4 separate regions of the Homo sapiens genome follow, and all the other regions are linked to region 4. Evidence: fine-mapped expression QTL. A gene starts in region 4. Each other region holds a variant in brackets. All regions are shown on one strand. Distances are from middle to middle.

Evidence for each region. PIP is the estimated chance that this variant, and not a neighbour inherited with it, causes the effect.
Region 1: its variant is fine-mapped to the expression of ATP11A in whole blood (INTERVAL, PIP above 0.99).
Region 2: its variant is fine-mapped to the expression of ATP11A in whole blood (TOPMed, PIP above 0.99). The same link has a PIP of 0.9 or more in blood mononuclear cells.
Region 3: its variant is fine-mapped to the expression of ATP11A in whole blood (TOPMed, PIP above 0.99).

What each region holds. Positions count from the first base shown.
Region 1 is chr13:112,715,611-112,720,753 of GRCh38, reverse strand. All of the region lies in intron 1 of ATP11A (ATPase phospholipid transporting 11A), which reads right to left. Among named protein-coding and RNA genes, the nearest start is that of ATP11A, 28 kb to the right of the region's middle. RefSeq lists an enhancer at 106-1,305. The variant G/AAG (reference allele first, on the strand shown) is at 2,083.
Region 2 is chr13:112,868,443-112,873,585 of GRCh38, reverse strand. ATP11A (ATPase phospholipid transporting 11A) reads right to left here. Exons shown (of 30, transcript NM_015205.3): 26 at 1,786-1,851; 27 at 1-13. Among named protein-coding and RNA genes, the nearest start is that of MCF2L-AS1, 98 kb to the left of the region's middle. RefSeq lists enhancers at 245-294, 1-415, 416-917, 57-1,256. The variant T/C (reference allele first, on the strand shown) is at 1,948.
Region 3 is chr13:112,782,059-112,787,201 of GRCh38, reverse strand. ATP11A (ATPase phospholipid transporting 11A) reads right to left here. Exons shown (of 30, transcript NM_015205.3): 2 at 1,945-2,067. LOC124903252 (a long non-coding RNA gene) reads right to left here and starts at 1,938. Exons shown (of 2, transcript XR_007063947.1): 1 at 1,289-1,938; 2 at 1-919. The variant T/C (reference allele first, on the strand shown) is at 2,805.
Region 4 is chr13:112,687,083-112,692,225 of GRCh38, reverse strand. It overlaps ATP11A (ATPase phospholipid transporting 11A), which reads right to left and starts at 2,188. Exons shown (of 30, transcript NM_015205.3): 1 at 1,771-2,188. The coding sequence starts at 1,809. LOC102725228 (a long non-coding RNA gene) reads left to right here and starts at 2,411. Exons shown (of 2, transcript NR_187633.1): 1 at 2,411-2,563; 2 at 3,357-5,143. RefSeq lists enhancers at 34-535, 2,834-3,351 and silencers at 1,396-1,635, 1,656-2,585.

The DNA.
Region 1 (5,143 bases), 29 kb before region 4:
AAACCCCATCTCTACAAAAAATACAAAAATTAGCCGGGCGTGGTGGTGCACACCTGTAGTCCCAGCTACTCAGGAGGCTGAGGCAGGAGAATCGCTTGAACCTAGGAGGCAGAGGTTGCAGTGAGCTGAGATCATGCCACTGTACTCCAGCCTGGCGACAGAGCGAGACTCCGTCTCAAAAAAATTAAAAAAAAAACAAACAGACTCTACCCAGAGGCTTCATCTGCGTGATAAAGCCCCGGTCTCCACAACCTCTTTGCCTCAACCCAGGCTCACGGGACCCGCGGCCACAGCAGACGAAGGTGAACGCACCCCACAGGTAACCCTGACCCTGCGCGTCGGGCGTGGGTTTCCTCATCTAAACACTCCCTTCCACTGGCTCCAGGCTTTCAACAAAGCTTTACTGCTTTAACCAATCGCACACTGAAGAATCTCCGACTCCACCTATGGCCTGTGACACCCGTTTCAAGAAATCCCACCTTTCTGGGCTAAACCAATGTATACCTTCCATGTACCGATTTGTGGCTTTGCCTGTGAGTCCTGTCTCCCTAAAATATACAAACCCAAACTGTGATCTGACTGCCTCAGGTGCACCTTCTCAGACTCTGTTTCCCCAGCCCACAGTCACTTAGACAGGCTCAGAATAAACCTCTTTAAAATAGTTTACAGACTTTGGTCTTTCCATTAACAGAATGGTCATTAATGTATTTGATCAATCCCTTATCCACAGACTTGAGATGTTTTCATTGCTACAACAGATACTGCTGCAAAGAACATTCTGATATGATTGTGGGCACTTGGGATATGACTTTCTTAGGCTGAATTTCCAGAAATGAAATGGAAATACTTTTTTTTAAATTATGGGAGACTGTTGTTTTGGACTGAGCTCCAGCACTAGGCCCCAACAGACCAGACCAAACAGGAATGGAGTTGCTCCTGCTCAATGCCACGTCACCAAAATGGAACTTTAAAGAAGTGACAGGTCCCAAAACAGACCGGTTTTTCTCAAAAATAGGAGATTCTGTTGACCTGAGTCAGCAAGTGACAAAGTCCCCTCTGCTTTACCCTCTACAAAGAAGTAACCTGAAGTAACCTGAAGTAACCTGAAGTTCACCATCAGCTTCTTATTCTGTTTCCTTGCTTCCACCTTACAAAACTGACTGTTCTGCCATTGCCCAGTGGGAGCTCTCATTATGTAGAACGGACGCTGCCCCGTTAAGGAATTGTAATTAAAATCCAATCAGATCTATAACTAAATGTTTTGTAATTTTGTCTTCTGACAGTTGGAATCAAGGATACATTATTTTGATTCGGCAAATGGGATTATTCCCACAGCCTACAAGTTAATTAATCTTACATTTTAAAAGTGTTTCAAAACAAAGTCATGAACAGAAGATTGAAGATTACGTGAGAATATAACAAAGGCATGCAAGGCATTGAGTCTTTTTATATTGACTTGCTTTTGTGTTGCCTCTGGTGCAGTTTGCATACCTGAAACACACCATCATAATTTCCTGCCTGCGCGTCACAGGGCATCCTGAGGGCCCCTGACTATTCACCAAGACGGTCTTTGACGCGATTCAAAGTCACACCTGCGCGTCACAGGGCATCCTGAGGGCCCCTCCAACTGTTCACCAAGATGGCATTTGACGCAATTCAAAGTCACACACACACAGTTCAAATAAGCCGGACTTTCAGCATCTTCTCTTCTTCTGTTAAAGCCATCGTTGAAATCCTAACCCTCCCTCAATCCCTACGTCCTATTTCAAAAGCAGGCCAGGTGCAGTGGCTCACGCCTGTAATCCCGGCACTTTGGGAGGGCAAGGCGGGTGGATAGCCGGAGGTCAGACGTTCGAGACCAGCCTGGCCAACATGGTAAAACCCCATCTCTACTAAAAATACAAAAGAAAAAAAAATTAGCTGGGAGTGTTGGCGTGCAACTGTAATCCCAGCTACTCAGGAAGCTGAGGCAAGAGAATCCCTTGAACCTGGGAGGCGGAGGTTGCAGTGAGCCAAGATCGTGCTATTGCCCTCCAGCCTGGGTGACAAGAATGAAACTCAGTCTCAAAAAAAAAAAAAAAA[G/AAG]TGCAGCCTGCAAGCCCACCCTGGTCCGACTGCTAATCCAAACCCAGGGATCCAGGACCCAGTGACAATCTCTCGAGGGCAGTTAGAAGAACCTAAGTGGCAAGTAGCTGGGTGCTGCCTCTGCGGGTTCCCATCCCCACCGCACACACCTCGGAGGGAGGACCCCCAGCGGAGGCGGCTGCCCTCTGGGGGTATTTCACATGAAACTTGCGGCAGGCGGCACAGTTGTCTTCTTGCTTAGGCTGTGTTTGGAACAGACAGAAGAGTTGTAAATTTAACTGGAAACACTTGGCTTTGGCTGGCTAACAAATAAAATTTCATGAGCACAAACAAAAAGCAGAGTTGAACATTGTCACCTGAAAAGAAATTTAAAATTGTTAAAGCGTCAAAAAAATCCAGGTGCTTTTAATATCTATATTGTTTTTATGCTTTTTATCCAATGGTAAAAGCAATGAGTGTTCTTTACGGAAAAGCAAAATAAATTCAAGCAAAAAGACTATCACACAGCAAAGGGGGAGAGACAACTCCTGTTCACGCCTTGGCGGGGTGGGGGGCAGGGGGCGGTGGCAATCATTTATTTATTTATTAATTTTTTGAGATGGAGTTTCCCTCTTGTCACTCAGGCTGCAGTGCAGTGGTGCAATCTTGGCTCACTGCAACCTCTGCCTCCTGGGTTCAAGTGATTCTCCTGACTCGGCTCCCGAGTAGCTGGGATTACAGGCATGCACCACCACGCTCAGCTAATTTTTGTATTTTTAGTAGAGATGGGGTTTCACCATGTTGGTCAGGCTGGTCTCAAACTCCTGACCTCAGGTGATCCACCCACCTCGGTCTCCCAAAGTGCTGGGGTTACAGGCGTGAGCCGCCGTGCCTGGCCACGTGGCAATCATTTCTAATGCACAGATGTGTGTTTGAAACTTTTTCGGAATGGCATCACACAACATGTACTGTTTTCTCACCTACGACCATAACTTAATCAATTCAGTATCATCATATGTTTAGACAGTTTATCAGGTTTGCCTGATTTACAAGCAGTGCAGAGAACTGAAAAATGAATTAGCAAATAAAATGAAAATCTATAAACTTGACAGTAGTGTTTGTAATGTACAATGTGAAGGTTGTACATTCAGACCAGAAGCATCAAAATCATAAACATGTACCACAAGAGTACCCGGGGATGTTTATTTTCAACCAAATCATGTTCAGTTGTTAAAAGGGTGCTTTCTAAAAATGTGTTTTCAAAAGAATCCCACACGCCCTCTTGAACAACCCTCTCAGCTTGGAGGTAATGGAGCTCAGTCAAGGAGGCAGAGAGCTGCTGCTTCTCCTGGGATGGCGGGGGGGCATGTTCTGAAATAAGAGTAGAAAAACAAGTTGGATGTGATTAGGAGAAAAAGTATTATGCTAACCTGGGCCACTCCTGCACCTACTTTCCAGCAGCCTTTTATTACAAATAAATGAGACCATATTTGCATTTTAAATTTTGTCCCGATTGTTCCGTTCTTTACACTTGAACAAGTGCCGTCCTCAAGGCGGAAGCGTGTCTGCTCTCCTCCTGGCTTCTCTTTCTCTTCCTGGTCAAGGTCACAACAGAAGCCTCCCCCTCATTTCAGAACATACTCGTGTCCCCCACTCATCACCAGGGCCAACAACAGCCTCTATGGGCCCTGCAGGCCAGTGGGTCTGCGTCTGTGGGTGGACACCACAAGCCTCTGCCCGTCCCAGGGAAAGTGCACGGGCCTCCAGCTCCCGGATGTCCACCTGATCCAGTACTGCCCCATCATTTCACCTTTATTTTGCACATAGCCATCTTTAGAACGCAGAAATTGAGGGAGGCTGGGAGGCCAGCAGCCTCCCCGACCTACCCACACCCCACCTGGGCCCTGCAGGAGCTGCCACTGCCCCACTCACGCAGAGCCCCCAAGTCCAGGATGGGCCCCGTCACTGGCTGAGACCTGGGGAGGAACCTGCTCTCACACCCTCTCCAGCGGCCCGGCCCCATCGACGTGCCCAAGACATGGGTGAGAGTCAGGACCTGGCTCAGTGCAAACCCAGCCCCGAGCCAGGCTCTGGCCCTGCATGAAGACCGGCACAGTGGAAGGTGGGGAACGCCCCAGTCCCAGGAGGCCTCCTTGCCCCCTCTGTCCCGGCTCCCGTCCTCCCAGAGGCGGAGGGGATGCCTACCAGGAGACTAGAGGTGGTGGCCCCCACAGGCCCCCAGAGCCACCACAGACCACTGGGTTGGTGGTTCCTTCTGAGTGTCTGGGCCACGTGAAGTGAAAAACTAGGAAGTGAATCTGGGGAGACGCCAGGCCACACGCACCTAGGTGGGCATTCCCACGGGTTCCCACAGCTGTCGGAGCAGAGCTCACCAGGAGGGGCAGAGAGAGATGCGACTTGCTAAAGCCCCCACTTCCCACCAGATGGGGAATGCCTGGGGCCTAGGGACTTGGCCCCACCACGGTGGATGCTTCTCATGGGAGCTCTGGCAAAAGGTCTATCACAGGGTGCTGTGGCTCCCAGCATCTGCAGAAGGCCAGAGGACCAGGCTCAGAAGACGGAGCAGCCACCGGGAACTCCACTGAGAATGAGCTCCAAGCCTCTCCAATTCTCAAAGTCCAGGCAGGAGCCACCCCCAGGCCCCCACAGAGCCAGCCTGCCCAGAGCTGCTGGGGAGAGAAAGCAAAGCAAAACCCAATTCCACACCCAGCCACTACCATCCCTCAGAGAGCCCTTAGTGGGAGAAGGGGAAAGGAATGGGATCGGATTTCTAAGGAGAAGGTGCCCTCAAGGCCATACACTCTGTCTCTCTGGCAAACACCTTCCCCGGCCCCCAGAGGTGTGAGCAACAGGGCTCCAAGCCCAAGCCACTTGGGAATGATCACAGAGCAACACAGAAACAGGTGCGAATTCGTCCTGCAAAATAGCACAACTGCTGAAAAGGCACAGGTTAGGGTTGTCTTTGGAAGAAGATTAATCTGTAAAGAATTCCCAGAGAAAGTAAGATTTTAATCAACTGTAAATACAGAGGGGCAACCCTCTGGGGAGGAGGGGCAGTGTG
Region 2 (5,143 bases), 180 kb before region 4:
TGTCCAATGCAAGCTAAAAGGAAAAAAAAAAGGGCAGTTAACGGTGTCATCTGAGCAGTGAGAATGATCGTGATGGGCAGGACAGAGAGCCGGGGGGTGACGAGAAACTAAACCAAACGCAAGACCCAGCAATGACGACTCAATGCCTGCAAAACACGGCTCAGGAAGACAAAGCCACACCTCACACCGCTCAGGAAGACAAAGCCACACCTCACACCGCTCAGGAAGACAAAGCCACACCTCACACCGCTCAGGAAGACAAAGCCACACCTCACACTGTTCAGGAAGACAAAGCCACACCTCACACCGCTCAGGAAGACAAAGCCACACCTCACACCATTAAGGAGACAAAGCCACACCTCACACCACTCAGGAAGACAAAGCCACACCTCACACCGCTCAGGAAGACAAAGCCACACCTCACACCACTCAGGAAGACAAAGCCACACCTCACACCGTTCAGGAAGACAAAGCCACACCTCACACCATTAAGGAGACAAAGCCACACCTCACACCACTCAGGAAGACAAAGCCACACCTCACACCGCTCCAGAAGACAAAGCCACACCTCACACCGCTCAGGAAGACAAAGCCACACCTCACACCGCTCAGGAAGACAAAGCCACACCTCACACCGCTCAGGAAGACAAAGCCACACCTCACACCGCTCAGGAAGACAAAGCCACACCTCACACCGTTCGGGAGACAAAGCCACAGCTCACACTGCTCAGGAAGACAAAGCCACACCTCACACTGCTCAGGAAGACAAAGCCACACCTCACAGTGTGAGTGGAGAGGAAGAATGTGGGGACGCCACAGCCCTGGGTCCTAGGTAAGGGAGCCATGGATGTATTTCCCAGATGGCAGCATGCGGGCCACAGACCAAGGTGTTGTTTATATCGTCACCGAAGAAAGTCATTCAGATTAAGGTGTTCTTTATGTCTCTACTGAAGAAAGTTACTTCTTAAAATTTTTTTGAGACAGTCTCGCTCTGTCGCCCAGGCTGGAGTGCAGTGGTGCGATCTTGGCTCACTGCAACCTCCACCTCCCGGGTTCAAGCGATTCTCGTGCCTCAGCCTCCCAAGTAGCTGGGATTACAGGCGCGTGCCACCATGCCCGGCTACTTTTTGTGTTTTTAGTAAAGATGGGGTTTTGCCATGTTGGCCAGGCTGGTCTCGAACTGCTGACCTCAGGTGATCCATCCACCTTGGCCTCCCAAAGTGTTGGAACTACAGGTGTGAGCCACTATGCCTGGCCAGAAAGTTACTTTAGAGTCAGGTGTTGTTTACATCACTATCTAAGAAAATCACCTTAGGAATGTTTTGGTATCACTTTTTAAGACTCAGTCTGATAGGTTTTGAGATTTCATAATGATATATTCTGTATATAATTTCACTGAACTTTAAAGAGTGAAATTTTTCAAAATACATTAATTTGTTTCAATTAAAGTGTATTTTGATGGCGCTGGGGGGAGGGCTACTTGCCACTGAAAACAATTCTAGCCTGAATTCTTTCACAAAGAAGCAGCTTGCTCCCGAGGTTACCTCCGGTGTAGCTCTGGGGTTTGCACATGGGGTGGCCGGGTGTGCTGAGTGGCTGTGCATTACTTGTCTAAACAGCAGGACAAGGATGCCCAGGGGTGCCCCAGGAGCCAGCCAAGGCTGGGTGGAGAGTGGCTTCCAGCCTCAGTACAGAGTTATAATTCAGAGAGCTCAGAGCGCGTGAGGCCTACACTGCAGGGGTTCACTGTGGCTGGGGGAGGAACGTGAGCGCGAGACCACTTACCTTTAGTGTAACTGTGAACACCATCACGGTGAATACCAGCGTTCCAAACGTCCAGTTTCCAAATATCTGTTTGGGGAAAATAGTCCAAGTCATCTCGTTTTTATGTATTTTTTTTTCTCTTTCACAATCAAGAGTTTTAGAAAATACACCTCATTTTTCTTG[T/C]GTGCCAACACTTCAAACCCCAAAGATATAAGCACTATATTTTCTTATTATCCCGTAAAAGAAGATGCAGCAACTCCCCAGAGCACGGCAGGACGCCCCCATTTCCCGGCTGCATCTCCCACCACCAGTTCTGTGGCTTGGTGATGGGCTCAGAGCCTGCCTATCTGCAACTTGCTGCCCGCTCCTGACGCTGGCCCTGCTCAATGCTCTCAGCCACAACAGACGTCCCAAGGTCTCAAACTGAGCACAAAAACTCCCTCACAGCTGGCATTTAAATATCCATAATGCAAACTCGGGTACACGCAAACCTCCTTTTTCTGTTTTGTGTTTTACGTAGAAAAGACAGTTGCCTGAGTACCCAGCTACATTCCACGGGTTTCAGGAACAAACTCACAGACTGTGTCTGTTCCCTTCTGAACTCAGCTCAGACTCCTGCCTGCTGTTGAAGAACAGCGGCGGGAACGTTCTGCGAGTAAATGCAGAGGAAACACCCCAGGCACCCATGCAGAGGGGGAAGCCTGGGGGCTTCCCTCGGGGAACCTCCCTCAGGACAGAGAAGACAAGCCGGCAGACAGGACAGGGCTGGACAGAGGCTGCCCCGCGTGCGGCCAGAACCACAGATCCGCCAGCAGTGGTGCCCAGGTGGCCGTGGAGGAGGGAAGGTCAGTGGGACCCACGAGCTGCCAGCTGGCAACGCAGCACAGACACAGACACACCCGTGAGGACCGCGTGCCCGACCCGTGAGGACAGCACGCCTCTCTACCGCACGAGGCACAGGCCAGAAAGGGCTGCTGCCCAGACCACCCCCCGCCTTGGGGAAAACCCCCGACTGGAAACTTGTTTCGGGAGAACCTGCTTTCCTTTGGGACGCTCCTGCGCTGTGGCCCAGACGATTTCTAGTTTATCGGATTCCATGAACTGCACCTCGCAGGGAATTTTATTTTATAAAGAATTAAAAAGCGGGCCGGGTGTGGTGGCTCATGCCTGTAATCCCAGCGCTTTGGGAGGCCGAGGTGGGCGGATCATGAGGTCAAGAGTTTGAGACCAGCCTGGCCAACATGGTGAAACCCCGTCTCTACTAAGAATACAAACATTAGCCGGGCGTAGCGGCGCCTGCCTGTAATCTCAGCCACTAGGGAGGCTGAGGCAGGAGAATTGCTTGAGCCCGGGAGGCGGAGGTTGCAGTGAGCAGAGATCACGCCACTACACTCCAACGTGGGCGACAGAGCACAGACTCTGTCTCTTAAAAAGCTGGAATACAAATGGCTGTTCTTCAGAATTCAGTTTCAACCAAAACAACACACCCATCACCATACCCCTTGATTTAGCTGAGGGAGGGTGTGGGCTACAGTCCTCCCACATGGTCAGTGGGATAACAGGATAACATCTCATTTGTAGATTATAGAAAAAAGTGTTAGGACCTTTTGTAGTGAACACCGCTTCTTAGGGGCCCCCATCAACACATCCTTCAGTTTTTCCCTCACTTCCTCATTGTGATCAGAAGTGGGCCTCCTCCTTCTGGCTTGGAAATGCCTGGCCTACAGTGTCACTCAGATCTACACATGCTTGTGGTTCTCGGCTGGGGCAGCCTTGCCCCCAGGGACACCTGGCCGTGGTGGAGACATTTCTGGGGCGTGGGGTCTGCTAGCTTTGGATGGGGGGGTGGAGGGGCTGCTGAGTGCACACGACAGTGGCCCACGAGGATGTACATCTGGCCCCAATGTCAGCAGAGCCCGGGTGAGAAGCCTGTTTCACACTCACCAAAAAGTGCCGTCTCTTTGTGGCTTAACTTCTGGGGCAGGAAAATATCATGCCTCTAGGAACAGCTGTGGCTTGGCAGCAGCCTACAAGCACATGTGGCCAGCAAGGTGCTGGAGGGCGGGAGGCTGCTGTGCTGTAACTGGAAGCTGATGCTTTCAGCCAAGTGGTGCCTCCACAGCAGCTGAGGGCGGCTTTGCACCCAGACAACCACATCAGCTGGGCCTGGAGGAAAAGCCCCTGACGCTGCCCAGCTCTCCTCTTCCTCCCCCAGGCCTCACCTTGGCCATCCCAACACAGAACTCTGAAAGAGTTAGATGGCAGCAAGACATGAACTCAAGGGTGCCCTGTGAAGCAGTGTGTGTCACCAACAGCGCCACAGGTGATAACTGCAGTCAACTCACACGGCCTCCTCACTGTCCCCTCTCCCTGCTGTGAGCCGAGAAACTGCCTTTCTAAGCTCCCAGCTGGGGCTCCCTGGGTTTAGGGGGTAATGGCAGAACTGGGATAAGGAGTTAGGCCTCAGGATGCCTGGTCCTGCAGAGCACATGGGCCACAGCTGTAAGCTTTATAGGTGAGGAACAAAGCACAGCTATCGTGAATCCAGAATCAGGCACCTTGGTCAGGGCCCCTGAGAAACGCTGACCCATTACTAACCTGTGTCCACGTCCTTTGGAAGCTAGTCCACTGTGGAGCTATCCTGAAACGCATCTCTGGAAAGCCCTCTTATTCCCTTGGTGGCCTGAAGTGGGGCCCCCAGGTGAACTGCCATGATGTGGTTTGGCTTTGTGTCCTCACCCAAATCTCATCTCAAATTATAATCCCCGTGTGTTGGAGGGAGAGCCTGGTGGGAGGTGACTGAATCATGGACGTCCTCCTTGCAGATCTCGTTGACGGTGGGCGAGTGAGTTCTCATGAGATCTGGTTGTTTCAAAGTGTGTAGCATTTTCCCCTTTGCTCTCTCTCTCCTGCAGCCTTGTAAAGAAGGGCCTTGCTTCCCCTTTGCCTTCCGCCATGATTGTAAGTTTCCTGAGGCCTCCCCAGCGATGCTTCCTATGCAGCCTGCAGAACTGTGGCTCGATTAAACCTCTTTTCTTCCTAAATCACCCTGTCTCAGGTAGCTCTTCAGAGCCATGTGAAAATGGACTAACATGTGCGGATAGTTTATTACTACAATTGCTGGTCGTTATTTCCATCAGATTCTGGGGGTGGCAGGCATCCCTGGGATACCAATCTCCTTTTTCAAAGGGCTTTTCACAGGGACCCTTTTCTTCCAAGTGACATCAACGCCATCCCCAGTGAAGCTCCTGTTTCTGATTTCTGTGGAACCCTGTCCTCATGTGACAGGCACATCTCAGCCAAGAACCTGACCAGTGCGAAAGCCTCACTCCTTCAGCAGATCTGCCTCTGGGGCTGGCCACCCTCCACCACTGCAGGC
Region 3 (5,143 bases), 95 kb before region 4:
TGTGAATTAAGTAGGTCTCCACAGGGGTCTACGCATCAGGACACCCGGTGTGAATTAAGTAGGTCTCCACAGGGGTCTACACGTCAGGACACCGGTGTGAATTAAGTAGGTCTCCACAGGGGTCTACGCATCAGGACACCCGGTGTGAATTAAGTAGGTATCCACAGGGGTCTACGCATCAGGACACCCGGTGTGGATTAAGTAGGTCTCCACAGGGGTCTACGCATCAGGACACCCGGTGTGAATTAAGTAGGTCTCCACAGGGGTCTACACGTCAGGACACCGGTGTGAATTAAGTAGGTCTATCGCAGGGGTCTACACATCAGGACACTTGGTGTGAATTAAGTAGGTCTCCACAGAAGTTTACACGGCAGGACACCCAATGTAAATTAAATGCGTCTACAGGTGAGGGCACACGTGTGAATGGTGGGCCGCCACAGGCATCCCCATGTGCAGCCCGTCCACGCGTGTGCGTGGGTTTAGCTCATCCATTTTGAAGGACGGTGAAGATAAATGGAGTCTGAATGCAGGCACGTGCGTTCCGCATTACCTGGAAAGCACAGTTTACCCCATGTGCAGCCCGTCCACGCGTGTGCCTGGGTTTAGCTCATCCATTTTGAAGGACGGTGAAGATAAACGGAGTCTGAATGCAGGCACGTGCGTTCCGCATTACCTGGAAAGCACAGTTTACCCCATGTGCAGCCCGTCCACGCGTGTGCCTGGGTTTAGCTCATCCATTTTGAAGGACGGTGAAGATAAACGGAGTCTGAACGCAGGCACGTGCGTTCCGCATTACCTGGAAAGCACAGTTTACCCCATGTGCAGCCCGTCCACGCGTGTGCGTGGGTTTAGCTCATCCATTTTGAAGGACGGTGAAGATAAACGGAGTCTGAACGCAGGCACGTGCGTTCCGCATTACCTGGAAAGCACAGTTTACCCCATGTGCAGCCCGTCCACGCGTGTGCGTGGGTTTAGCTCATCCATTTTGAAGGACGGTGAAGATAAATGGAGTATGAATGCAGGCACGTGTGTTCCGCATTACCTGGAAAGCACAGTTTACCCCATGTGCAGCCCGTCCACGCGTGTGCGTGGGTTTAGCTCATCCATTTTGAAGGACGGTGAGGATAAATGGAGTCTGAACGCAGGCACGTGCGTTCCGCATTACCTGGAAAGCACAGTTTACCCCATGTGCAGCCCGTCCACGCGTGTGCGTGGGTTTAGCTCATCCATTTTGAAGGACGGTGAAGATAAATGGAGTCTGAACGCAGGCACGTGCGTTCCGCATTACCTGGAAAGCACAGTTTACCCCATGTTTAATGGCAGCAGCTAAATTTCCACCTTGTTCTTAAGACCTGTTTCCAGGTCACTCTCTGAACGTGGGAAATGTGTGTGCACTTCCACGCTCTAGTCCATGGAGAGAAACACGCTTCGTTTAGACCGCGGCACTCTGCTTGTGCTTCCTACGCTTTACCTGGGCTGCACCTCGTGAACAAGCTCAAAGATTTCCCCCCAGGTTTTGCTGTCCAGCCTGCGTTTGTTGGCTCTTTCTCCGGGGTGGCTGGTATCGTTTCTACCTTACTGGCACTGAGACTCTGGCCAGGGTGGCCCACGACAAGCACGTGGCCAGGCGCCTCAGAAGTGGGACCTGGGTAGGGTTTGGATCCTGGACTTCAGACCTGCACTGCCTCTGTGGCACGGTCACCCGAGAATGGAGACACTGCGCTGTGAGCCCTGGGCAGGTGGAAAGCCTCCTGTGGGCAGTCACCGAGAGGGAGAGAGTAGCGCCCTCGGTGAGGTCCTGATCCGAAGCCCTTGCTGGGGGTGGCTGGTGGCTGTGACAGCAGGGCCAGGAGCAGAGCCGCTCTTTGAAACCGAGAAGCACTAACACCCCCCGGCAGCTGCTTTTTAGACACATTATGGACACTCAGACCCAAGCCAAGTTACCTTGGACGAGACGATCCTGTTGTCTGGGTATCTCTGTGGGATGTAGGCCTCTGCGCCCGGAGGTGGCTCCCTGTGTCCCACGTAGATGGTCCTGCTGTCCACCCAATTCTCTTCTCCTGCACACTGCGGAAAGGAGAGCGGTGTTAGGCAGCTGCCTCAGAACCTGCATCAAAAGCTCTTGCCCAGAGTGTTGCCTTGAGGCACGTTCGTCGGAACGGAGACCTGTACCTGCTGCTGAGAGCATCGTTCAGGGCTGCAGGGAGACCTGGGGCCCAGCACCCCAGGCCCGAGCCACCCTGTCTTACGCAGCCCTCATGGGCCAAGGTCTTCTGGTGAGCACCAGGAGGGTCTGCGCTCCTGTGAGAGCCACACAGTGAACTTCAAAGCTGACTGCCAGTGGAAACAGCTCAGGGCGTGTACATAAGAACAGAACGCGGCCGGGCGCGGCGGCTCACGCCTGTAATCCCAGCACTTTGGGAGGCCGAGATGGGCGGATCACGAGGTCAGGAGATGGAGACCATCCTGGCTAACACGGTGAAACCCCGTCTCTACTAAAAAATACAAAAAATTAGCCGGGTGTGGTGGTGGGCGCCTGTAGTCCCAGCTACTCAGGAGGCTGAGGCAGGAGAATGGCGTGAACCCGGGAGGTGGAGCTTGCAGTGACCGAGATAGCACCACTGCACTCCAGCCTGGGGGACAGAGCGAGACTCTGTCTCAAAAAAAAAAAAAAAGAACAGAACGTGTGGCCAAATCGTAAGGCTTCCAAAACAGAAGAGACAGTGATGTTGGGAAAGGTCTTTAATGGAAGAGGAAAGAAAAACTATGATACTGGGGTAGAAGGCGGGACTTGACTCCAGAGG[T/C]GGGGCTTGGACACCGGACCAGATTGAGGACTGGTGAAAACAGGGCTGGGGCAGAGGCAGCTTTCCATAAGACATGCCCGCGGTGTGAATATCAGTTTACCATTGCCATGGCAACAGCCAGGAGCTGCGGCCCCTTTCCATGGCAATGACCCGATCGCCTACAAGTTACATCCTTCTCCTAGAAATTTCTGCATAAACCACCCCTTAATCTGCATGCAATTAAATCTGCCCTGAGCTACTCCTCTCCGCCTAACAGGGCAGCCCCGCTCTGCAGGGGCAGTCAGGGAGCTGTAGCCTCTTCAATGAAGCTGTTTCTTCCGCCTCCTGCTTGCCCTTGAATTCCTTCCTGGGCAAAGCCAAGAGCTCTCCAGGCTCTTGCCCCACTGTGGGGTCACCGGCCCTGCATCTGCAGATGGGTAAGAGTCGCTCAACCCTGCTAGGTGTCTGCTCAGGAACAGGAAGGCTCTCCTGCAAAGCTGACTTGGGCCTGACCATCTCTGTATTACTCGGAACACTGTATTTGGAGGAGTTAAGGAAACAGCTCTGACAAGAAATATTTCAACAACACTCAGGCGGGCCATTTGATGTCAGCACTAAAACCACAAAAATACTTTAGCTCGTAACGGGAAATCCAAACGCCACATCTGAATACGCAGCCCTGGCCATGGCCCTGAGCCCACCTCGGAATACGGGGCCTTAGCGTGTGGCTCTCGTCCCACGCCCCAGTTCTCTGTAGGAACTGCAAGACATCAGCCTTTCTGGGGCATGAGAAACACAGCTGAAGAGGAGACGGAAGCCTCCTCCATGAGGGGAATGCTGGTGCAGTGGGACGGGAAGGACGAGCGGGCACTGCCGTCGAAGGGCTGACCCTTGGCTGCTGGGCCACTCCTCGCCGCAGGCACGGGGACAGTTTCCCGCTGAGCTTCTCACCCATGAGGGGGACACCAGCACTTTCTCAGGGTCCTGGAGCATGAAATGAGGCAACGGGAACAGAACAAGGCCAGGGGCCCGGCCCAGCACAGACACTTGTAAATGCTCAGGGCCAAGTCCTCTCTGTGTGGGCTGCCCCTCGGTGCTTCAGGGAACTCTCGTTTTTTAAAGCCAAAAAAGGCAGGCAGGGTCTGAACAGTCTGGAGTCCCTGTCTGCGTGGTGCTCTTGTTTATAAACCTCATGGGGCTGTTTTTGGACTTGATGTCATCAGCTCCTCTGCTCCCCTACCAACCTCTCAGAGGAAGTCTTTCCACACTGTCCCACCCAGAACGTCCCGGACAGGAGCTGTGTGAATGTCTGCACATTTGCTTTAATAAATTCCATCGGTAATTCACCTGCAATTTCTTTTATTAGGACTCAGCTTTGCAGAAAAGTCTAAGTAAAATAACGGAAAGAGACCACAGCAGTCTCCATGTGCCCCAACTGTGTTTTCAGAGATGTTTGGCTGAGACTATCAACCAGTGTTTCCACGGGGAGCCGAGGCTTCCATGCTCCTGGGGACAGACGTACAAGGCAGCCACCAGGCCAGGGAGGAACACTCCACCCTCAAATGAGCCAGACGCAGTTTTCCTCAGCGCGACCTTGGGTCGTGGCCTCCCCGCGAGCCTGCTGGCCATGCAGTAACCGTCATCCTGGACTCAAAGCCAGGTGGGCAGCACAGCCCCACTGCCCTGACCATGCCACAGCCTGGCTGCCCCTCCCCACGAGGACGGGCCCTCCTCCTCCGGGACTGGGTCTCCCTGCCTGACGGGGGCCTTCCCTGCTGTCTCTATTTTGTGGTGAAGCCAACAAACCACAGGGATGTGGACTTTAAAAGCATCCTAAGAGCTTCATAAATAAACTGCTGCCTATAAAGGCTAAGCAAAGTCCCTGGCTCCTTTGTTTTCACAGAACATAGCCAAATAGATGCTTCTCATTCTCGTGAAATCAGGAAATTGCACTGAATAAGAATATAAGTGAACCAGAAAAAGAGAGAAAAGCATACAGATATCTTTTAATACAAAAGTGAAAATCCTAGAAACTTTCTTCGAAGCTTCAAAGACGGCAACTGAATTTCAGGAGTGGCCACGAGCCCAGACACTGGTTTGGAAAGCTGAACGCTTCCCTGGAGCCGTGTGGCATTGCCCATGCCACAGCGAGCCCACGCTTCCCGGCCGCTTCCAGCCAGCAACAAAGGGACCCTGTCTCATGGAGGAACGATCAGGATGAATGGATGAAGCCCACTCCAAAGTCTCAACACCGGCGAGCAGACGTTTATCATTAAATAATTACATCAAAAACAACTCAGATACAGCCCAACAGTGTAGCGGCGTTTAACCCGACACAAGTAGGAATGAGTATTCTTGTC
Region 4 (5,143 bases):
TCCCTTCCCTCTTCCATTTCGCTCGAAGGAAACAAAGCAGGAAAATAAGGTGTCTAGGGACCCACACTTCTGAGCGACACAACTGAGAACAGAAGCTTCCGCCCAATAAAGCATTTCTCTTACACTGCAGGTTACCTATAGTCACTGTGATTGGGTCTTCTATAACGTTACCACAGTGAAACACAGGTTTACCACTCACATTAGGATTTGAACTGGGGGCTCGAGCACCAGTGAGGGAGTAACACAAGGCTCCTGGAGCCAAGCCTTTCAAGATCTAGCATCGGAATCATCAGAATCACCAGGGGTGAGTTCTCTCCACTTAAGTAAGTCAGGCTGACCTTCCTAAGGCTTCCCCGAGATCAGGAAACGATGTAAGGTGCACTCAAGTCTCCTTGACTCTCCGAGGTTTTTGGTTAATAAATAAATCCGGGGGAAAGCATTGATCTGGCATCCCCCACTGAAAAGAAACCTATCTATCTTTGGCCAAGGTCTCCTATTTAAAGAAGGCTCATAAATATGAAAGGCTGCCTGAGGTAATTCCTATGCCGGGAAAGAACAAAGTTCCCATAATACTGCCCTCTCTAGTATCAAACCCGGTGCATGCGACTTCTCGAACCTGTGATTGACCAGTGACCGCCAGCCTCTATGGAACAATGAAGCCTCTTGTGCAAGACAGTGGCAGGAAACGCTGTGCTTGGGACAGTTTTCTTCCTCTCCTACACACACACACACACACACACACCCTTTTTTTTTTTTTTTTTTGATACAGAGTCTCGCTCTGTCACCCAGGTTGGAGTGCAGTGGCTCGATCTCGGCTCATTGCAACCACCGCCTCCCGGGTTCAAGCGATTCTCCTGCCTCAGCCTCCTGAGTAGCTGGGATCCCAGGCGCCTACCACCACGCCCGGCTAATTTTCGTATTTTTTAGCAGAGACGGGGTTTCACCATGTCGGTCCGGCTGGTCTCAAACTCCTGACCTCGTGATCCGCCCGCCTCGGCCTCCAAAAGTGCTGGGATTACAGGCGTGAGCCACCGCGCCCGGCCACACACCCCTTTTTACACCTAACGCCAGGGATTCCGGTTTCCCCTCCTCTGGTGTAAAACAAAATCAACTTTTCCCCTTCCGAGTCTTCCCTCCTGAGCTCTTCACTTGCTTATCACTGAAGGGGCAAATTCCAGAGGAACCCAAGAAGACCCCGGACTTCTGATCTAATTGGTTACTTTAAGGTAAAAAATAAAAAGATTCCAAACTCCGCTTCTGAATCCCCCAGGGGTGTTAAAGAACAAACACAATTGCTACCTTTTTCTGCAGAAGTGTAACGCTTCCTCCCAATCCCTTAATCTTACAGACACGGCTGCGCGGAAGCCGCATCTGAAGGTTCCTCCCCAGACCCGGGCCCCGGCGGGGTCGAAGTTGGCTCCCTCCGGGCGCCCGGTCCGCCGGGACAGCTCGAACCCCAGCCAGCCTCTCCGAGGGACCCCCAGGGCGCTGCGGGCGGGAAGGGGGCGCCAGGCGGCCGCGGCCAGGGAGCAGGTGGCCGCCCGGGGCTGGGGCCCCGCGCTGTGCCCACCTAGACCCCGTCGGAAGCCCCAGGGTGTCAACTCCGAGGCCCCTCCCCAGCATCCCGCTCGTCCCCGGGGGCGGTCCGAGTCCCAGACATCGGAGACCTCCCGGGACCCCGGGGCTGGACCGGCCACAGGGTCCGGGCTGCGGGGCCGGCCCGCGTCTGTCTGGTCCCCGGGTCCCCCAGCCCGCGCCGGGAGCACTCACGTATCTGTGCACGAGCGTCCGCACGAGGCTGCAGTCCATGGCTCCTCCGGCCGCTCCCGCTCCGCCGTTCAGCGCCCCCGCGCCCGGCTCGGCGCGCCCATGGGCTCCGGGGTACTAGTGCGGCCGCGCCCCCCGCTCCGGTCACGGCCTCGGCGCGCCGGGCGGTGCAGGGGGCGGCCGCGGCCCCTCCGCGCTCATGCCCGGCCCGGCCGGCGAATGCTGGGTCCGCGGCCCCGCGCGTCGGCAGCTGCTCCACTGGCGGCAAGGCTGCTGCTCGGGGCCGCGCGCGCGCGCTCTGGCGCCTTCTCTCTCCCCGTCGGTCCGCCCGCTCGGTTGGGCTCGGCTGGAGCACCCCGGCCGCGGCGGAGCCTGCGCTCTGCTCCTCCCGAGTCTCCTCCTCCCCTGCCCGCCGCCCTCTGGAGCCTCCGGGCCCCGCTGGCTCCTGCCCCTGCTCCGGGCGCGCACGTCACCGGCGCAAGTGAGCATGCGCCCCGCGGCCGCAGCCCCCGCCGGCCCCGCGCCCACACCCGCGCTCGCACCCGCGCGCCGGCCCTGCCCCCTCGCGCCTCCGCCCGGGCCCCAGACCCTGGGGGCAGAGGGCAGAGGGCAGAGGTCAGAGGCCGCGGGGAGGAACCCCCCTGTTGCTTCCGCCTCCCGGGGCGCAGGCGCTGGGCGCGGCGGGGAAGGGACTCGGCACTGGGGAAACCCGGAGTTTCAGCCAGGGTCCCAGGGCTTCCTTCCCGGGTTCCTGCCGGAAAACTTTTCTCCTCCGCCCGGAAGCCTCGATGGGGCAGTGAGATCGCGGGGCGAGGTGGGAGTGTGGGAGGGGGCCGCGGGCAGAGAGCGGGAGTCCGGCTGGGTGGGAGATCTCCTGAGCCGAAGCTGGGTCTCGCCCCAGCGTGGCGCCACCGACCCGCAGGCTTTTCCTGCTCTGCAGATGGAGAGACACAGGGACGCTCCTCAGGTGGCTGCCCTGGGCTGCCAGCCTGTCAGTGGGAGGGGAGGGTGCAGACAAGAGGCCCCTGTTTCCGAAACCCCTCTGTCCCCAAAGCTGCGACAGCAGAAGACACTTAGGCGGCCTGAGGGGTTGGTGAACCACAGAGGAGCTCAGCTTCGCCTGGTCTCCAGCTCCCGGTGGCGGTGGCGTGTCCTTAATGCTGCTGGCTTTGAACTGGACTGAGAACTATTTACCACACAAACACCACCATTTCAATCCCGGAGAATGCCTGTTTTCCCTAGGGTGACCTGGCCGGGGTAACAAACACTTGTTCTCTAATTCCACGGTCAGCCTTGACTTAATTGAGGTACTTGATTTCCAACTTCCTGTCTTGCTGCCACAGATAATCACTGATGAAACCAAACAGGCAACACCTTTTGGTGGCCTGTGGAGAGCGCTGCCCCGTCTGGGTCTTAGGAAGGCAATTGAATATGAATGTTCTCCCGAGTGCTTGTGGAAAAGAGATGGTGTTGGCCACTTTTTAGACGAAGAGAAATGAGTACTAGTGAACACTAATCATAGTGACTAAACAGTAAACGGCTCCCATTTGTTGTCGGCTAAAGCACTGATTCTTCATTTTCCATCCCAGCCTGTCCTGCTCTGGCCTGCCCTGTGCTCAGGAAGCTGGCGGTCCCCCTCAGTGGATCTTCACCCACAGGGACAACCTGCTGCAGACCGGGTAGGAGGGAGGCAGGGGCCTCTTCCCCTCTCCTTCCTGGCCTGGCCCCACACCCACCAGTGTTGGTTTCACTCTGTGGCTACGATTCTTCCTGGGTGCCCTTTCCATTGCACAACTCCTCTAGGCTCTACGAACAGAACTTCTCCCCGCCCCCAAGCCTCTTAGGGTGAGACATGTTGTCGGTCTGCCATTGTTGCTGGTCCCTAAATAGCAGCACCCTTTGAAGGATCCTTGAACCATGACCACACCGCAACAAAGAGTCCTTCATCAAACTCGCTTCCAAATCCCCTCCCAAGAACACCTTCAGTTTCCTGCAAGAACCCTGACTGCTGAAGCCGGATTTTGACTAAGCTTCTACCTTGTAAACCGTGACTGTGGGATTGGGGTCGAGGCGCAATCAGAGGTTGTATAAGGCACTAGATCAAGGCTGCCTGTCTGTCAGGAGTGTCTGCTTTATTCAGTAGTAAATGTGAATTGTTTTTCATTCTGTTGTGAATACTGTTGGTTGACAATGCAGCAGCCATGCCCTCTCTATCCTTGCTGGTTCAGGTATCCACTCTGTGTGGCTAAGGGTAAACTCTGTCTCTTGAGAAAATCTTGGTAACTCCATTTCTCTTTCCAACAATTGGCTTCAAACAAGCTCAAGTCAATGAGTCCCAACAGGAAGCCTGCTGGGGGTTGTCTGGCAAAGGTTTTCTCACTCCTACAGGAACATAAAGAGGAAATGCTCCTTTTTCCCTGGTGAATGTTGCATTCCCTGTCTGGATGCAATGCCTGGTGCTCCGCAGCCCTTTGCACTTATAAGAGAAGGTGGCCGGAAGAGCATCTTCACCCTGGGGTGGCCGCCTGGGAAGATGAGAAGAGCAGGAGTCCTTGGTGGCACAACCAGGCAATTCACCAAAATCCTGCTGCCCTCACCTGGAATTTCCTGCTATGAGAGACGTCTCCGTTTAAACCACATGAGCTGGATTTTCTGTTTCTAACACATGTCAGCATCTTCACGGTAAATCTAAGAAAAAAAAATCAGGGCTATTAAAAAACAAAGTCCAACTCACCCTGTGCTATGGTCTGAAGGTGTCCTCCCAAATTCACACGTGGAAACCTAATCCCAAATACCTGATACCTAATCCCAAATATTAAGAGGTGGGGGCCTTGGGAGGTGGTTAGGAATGGGATTAGTGCCCTTTAAAACTGAGGTTTTTGGGAGCCTGCTTGCCCTTTCTGCCATATGAAGATGCTTAGAAGAGGCCTTCTATGAAGCAGAGAACTTTTCTCAGATGCCAGATCTGCTGGGACCTTGATCTTGGATTTCTCAGCCTTCAGAACTGTGGGAAGCAAACTTCTGTGTGTATGAATAGCCATCTAAAGGATTTTGTTACAGCAGCCTGAGCAGACTAAGACACCCTGTGAGTCAGTTATTTTTGGCTGTGTCACGAGTGACCGCGAGTGCAGGAGCTGAAACGGCAGTGAGTGGGTTACCATTTCTCAGGACCCTGCGGAATTGGTGCGATGGTGCTTCTGCTCCACCTGTTGTTGGCTGGGATTGTCCTGCAGCTGCATTCTTCTGGGGGTCAGCTGGGGCTGGAAGCTTCCTGTGGTCTAGTCACACAGCTGGGGTCTCAGCTAGGGTGATAGAACACTGGGGGCAGGCCGGCCTTGCTGTCTCTCTCTGGCTTCTCATCATTCAGTGGTCTAGC